Regions from separate parts of the Homo sapiens genome. Here region 1 is linked to region 2. A link means that fine-mapping ties the variant in region 2 to the expression of a gene that starts in the linked region. Tissue or cell type: whole blood. Region 2 holds a variant in brackets; the other region holds the start of a gene. All regions are shown on one strand. Distances are from middle to middle. Region 1 holds the start of SGO1-AS1 (SGO1 antisense RNA 1). Region 2 has its middle 8.6 kb from the start of SGO1-AS1.

Region 1 (2,500 bases), 8.4 kb before region 2:
AGTTAGCATTTCCTTGGAGCATCATGACTGCACTAAAAAAGTTTTGGATTTCAGATTTTCAGATTAGGGATACTGAACCTGTACAAGATTCTTTCACATGTCAGATATAAGCCATCAGTTGATCACTGACAAGTAAATAGATGGTAATATTTAAGTTCCCAGGTTTTTATTTACAGATTTTATAATGTAGGAAAACTACAGAATGACCTTTTGGTCATTCACTTTTTTAGTTTGAATTCTAAAGTTCTTGAAATTCAAATTTCCACAAAGTAAAACTACTTTTCTCATTTATTTTTTAAATTCTCAGATCAGATACCTACTATTCCTCAAGACACACTGGGAGTTGATTTTGATTCAGGTGAAGCTAAGTCTACTGATAATGTCTTACCTAGAACTGTATCTGTTCGTAGCAGTTTAAAGAAACATTGTAACAGTATATGTCAGTTTGATAGCTTGGATGATTTTGAAACCAGTCATTTGGCAGGGAAGTCTTTTGAATTCGAAAGAGTTGGATTTTTAGACCCACTAGTAAACATGCACATACCTGAAAATGTACAACACAATGCTTGTCAATGGAGCAAGGACCAAGTTAACTTATCACCAAAGCTGATTCAGCCAGGAACGTTTACTAAAACAAAAGAAGACATTTTAGAATCTAAATCTGAACAAACTAAAAGTAAGCAAAGAGATACACAAGAAAGAAAAAGAGAAGAGAAAAGAAAAGCTAACAGGAGAAAATCAAAACGTATGTCAAAATATAAAGAGAATAAAAGCGAAAATAAAAAAACTGTTCCCCAAAAAAAAATGCACAAATCTGTCAGTTCCAATGATGCTTACAATTTTAATTTGGAAGAGGGTGTTCATCTTACTCCTTTCCGACAAAAAGTGAGCAATGACTCTAATAGAGAAGAAAACAACGAGTCTGAAGTGAGCCTCTGTGAATCAAGTGGTTCAGGAGATGATTCCGATGACCTCTATTTGCCCACTTGCAAGTACATTCAGAATCCCACGAGCAATTCAGATAGACCAGTCACCAGGCCTCTAGCTAAAAGAGCACTGAAATACACAGATGAAAAAGAGACGGAGGGTTCTAAGCCAACAAAAACTCCTACCAGTAAGTGATCTACTTGTTTACCTGTATTTTTAATGTTCGTGATAAATGATCACTCCTGATGCTTATATACTATACTTACCATCTGTTTCTCTGGTGGAGGTTGGAGACTTACCATCTGTCTCTCTTTGGTGGAAGTTATGGTCTGATTAAACAGTGGGGGGCTGGGTGTGGAAATCACAGTTGTATTGCTCTGACCTAATTCAGAGATTGCTTGTTATGGAGACAGAATTTTTATTTTCAGTAAATTAGGACTCCCAAGGGGACAGAGGGACTTTTTTGTAGACTTAGGTTGAATTGAAGTAGCTTTTATACACTTAACTGAAGTATCCCCTTGAAAGTGAAATCAAATTTGAATCCAGTGACTTGTTATTTTAATGGCCTTGTTTTATATTAAATTTGACAGGAACCGTGATTTAAAATAATCTTCTAGTTAGTGAAGATTTCCTCAATTGATAGGCTTAGTATTCTTTTGTACGACATCTCTAAAAACTGGCTCAGAAAATATTTTATTAGATCAAAAGTAGGCATAGTTCAAATGTTCGTAATACAACCTACACCTGTCCACAAAGATTCTCATTTGGCAATTTTAGTTAATACAAGTAAAACTAACATTTATAGTCAAGTTGTATCATTTTCAAAATATTGTCACATCATTTTATTTGATCCTCAGAACAATTCTGTGAAGTATAGGTGTTATGATGCTTATTTTGTTTGTAAGGAGATTAAAACCTTAAAAACCAAACCAACTTTCTAAATCGGCCAGTTAGTCAGTGGTAGCAGGCAAGTATCTTTTTTAAAAATATGCTGTAAGCCGGGCGGGTTGGCTCACGCCTGTAATCCCAGCACTTTGGGAGGCTGAGGTGGGCGGATCACCTGAGGTCAGGAGTCCAAGACCAGCCTGGCCAACATGGTGAAACCCCATCTCTACTAAAAATACAAAAAAATGAGCCAGGCCTGGTGGTATGTGCCGGTAATCCCAGCTACTCGGGAGGCTGAGGCAGGAGAAAAAGAATTGCTTGTACCCAGGAAACAGAGGTTGCAGTGAGCCGAGACCATGCCATTGCGCTCCAGCCTAGGCAACAAGAGCGAAACTCAGTCTCAAAAAAAAAAAAAGCAAAAATGCTATAATGATGTTAGAATAAATCAAACATGATTGTCAAAGTGTTGATAATTATTGGACCTGGGTAACTCAGAGTTTATTATACTGTTATTGCCATCTTTGTGTACATTTAAAAATGTCCAGAAAAAGTTGGGATTTTTTTGTTGTTGTTCACTTTTTAATTGAGACAGGGTCTTGCTCTATCACCTCGGCTGGAGGGCAGTGGCACTGTCATGGCTCACTGCAGTCTCAACCTCCCAGGCTCAAGTGATTCTTCCACCTCAGCC
Region 2 (2,500 bases):
GTGCAGTGGCCAATCATAACTCACTGTAGCCTCAAACTCCTGGGTTCAAAGGATCCCCTTTACCTAGGACTACAAGCTTGCACCACTGCACCTGGCTAATTTTTTTTTTTTTTTTTTTTTTTTTTTTTTTGGTAGAGATGGGGACTGGCTATGTTTCCTAGGCCAGTCTTAAACTCCTGGCCTCAAGCAATCGTCCAATCTTACCTCCCAAAGTGCTAGGATTACAGGCATGAGCCACCACACCTGACCATTTTGATCATTTTATTTGTAAAGTTCAGTAGCATTAAGTACATTCACATGATTGTGCAACCATCACTACCCTTTTCCAGAACTACTTCTTCTTCCCAAACTAAAACTCTATACCCATTGAACAATCACTCTCTCTTCTCCCCTCTCTCCCAACCTCTGGTAACCACTACTTTTACTTTCTATCTCTATGAATTTGACTGTTCCAGGTACCTCACAGAAATGGAATCATAGGATATTTGTCCTTTGTGTCTGGCTTAGTTAGCATAATAATCGCAAGGTTCATCCATGTTATAGCATGTATCAAAATTTTATTCCTTTTTAAGGTTGAGTAACATCTCATTGTATGTATACATATTTTCTTTATCCATCAATGAACATTTAAGTTTGTATATCTTTGAAGAAATGTCTATTCAAATCCAATAGGTTGTTTTTTGTTGTTGTGTTTTAGTTTTTATATATATTAGATATTAGTCCCTTATCAGATATGTGATTTCCAAATGTCCTCCCCCATTCTGTTGGTTGCCTTTTTACTCTGTTGATAGTGTCCTTTGATGTACAATAGTTCTGAAATTTTATTGAATCCAATTTGTCTATTTTCTCTTCTGTTGTCTTCTAAGTCATAATTTTTTTAATACATAGGTAGGATTTGTTTGCTAACTTTTTTTTTGTTTGAGATGGAGTCTCGCTCTGTCAGCCAGGCTGGAGTGCAGTGGTACAATCTTGGCTCACTGCAACCTCCACCTCCTGGGTTCCAGCGATTCTCCTGTCTCAGCCTCCCAAGTAGCTGGGATTACAGGTGTGTGCCCACCATGCCCAGCTATTTTTTGTATTATTAGTAGAGTCGGGGTTTCACCATGTTGGCCAGGCTGGTCTCAAACTCCTAACATCAAGTGATTCGCCTGCCTTGGCCTCCCAAAGTGCTGGGATTACAGGCGTGAGCCACTGC[G/A]CCTGGCCAACAATTTTGTTTAGGATTTTTTGTATCTATGATCATGAGTAAAATTTGCCTATATAATTTCTTGTATACACCTATTTTCGGTATCAAGGCTATACTAGCAATGTTTTCTTTTTTTGCTCTGTGGAAACAAATTGCACCTGTTGAGGGTTTGGTGAACTTGACACCAAAACCATCTTATCTTTCTATGTTTTCATGGGGAAATTTTGTACTAGTTTTTTAATAATTATAAGTCTTACATGTTCTCTAATTCTTCTTGAATCTGTTTAATTTTTCTCCCTTGGGAATTGTTAAGTGTACATGTATTGTGATAACTGCTATAATTTTGCTTTTATTGATTTTTTTTGCTTTATATCTGCTACAATTTGGTTCCTCCAAATCCCATGTTGAAATCTGATCCCCAGTGTTGCTGGGGGATCTAATAGCAGGTGTTTGGGTCATGGGAACAGGTCCCTCATGAATGAATTAATGCCCTCACTGGGAGGAGGGGATAAGTAAGCTCTCACTCATTTAGTTCCCAAGACAGCTGGTTGTTTAAAAGAGCCTAGTGCCACTTCTCTCTTGCTTCCTTTCTTGCCGTGTGATCTCTGCACATGCCAGCTCCCCTTTGCCTTCTACCATGAGTGGAAGCAGCCTGAGGCTTTCACCTCATGCCCAGTCTTCCAGCCACCAGAATTGTAAGCCAAATAAACATTTTTTCTTTATAAATTATCCAGCTTCGGGTATTCCTTTATAGCAACACAAATGAACTAAGAAACTACTCTGCTTTTTCTTTATGTCATTTTGATAAGGGTCAAATTCTGTGTTTTCCTTAAAATGAATTCAATTTTGCCCTCATTCCTGAGGTATAGGTTAAGAGTTACTAATTTTCTTACAGGCTTGATTTTGTTGTTGAGAAGTCTAGTCATTCTAATTTTTCTTCATATTTTGTTAGTTTGTCCCTTAGCATTTCATATTCTTGACTTATTATAAATGTATTATTTTTAATTTTCTGTTATTTTGCTGCTAGTTTATGGAATACAATTGATTTTCATATCTAGACCTTGCTAAATTCATTCACTAGTTCTACTACCATGTTTTGCAGTTCCATTAGGATTTTTTTTTGTATATGATCTTAATTAAAGTCTGCACGTAAAGACAATTTACTTCTGTCTTTCTATTTTGCATGTCTTTTCTTGCTTTACTGCACTGACTAGAACTTCCTCCATAATGTTGAATAGGGGTGAGAAGAGCAGTTATCTTTGCCTTTTTCTCGACTTTGGGAGGAAGCATTTGGTCCTAGGGCATTACTGTGATATT

The links. PIP is the estimated chance that this variant, and not a neighbour inherited with it, causes the effect.
Region 1: SGO1-AS1 starts here. The variant in region 2 is fine-mapped to the expression of SGO1-AS1 in whole blood (TOPMed, PIP 0.99).

What each region holds. Positions count from the first base shown.
Region 1 is chr3:20,172,863-20,175,362 of GRCh38, reverse strand. It overlaps SGO1-AS1 (SGO1 antisense RNA 1), which reads right to left and starts at 1,077. Exons shown (of 4, transcript NR_132785.1): 1 at 838-1,077; 2 at 545-628. SGO1 (shugoshin 1) reads left to right here. Exons shown (of 8, transcript NM_001199251.3): 6 at 308-1,114.
Region 2 is chr3:20,164,473-20,166,972 of GRCh38, reverse strand. It overlaps a transcript of SGO1 not described here. Among named protein-coding and RNA genes, the nearest start is that of SGO1-AS1, 8.6 kb to the left of the region's middle. The variant G/A (reference allele first, on the strand shown) is at 1,196.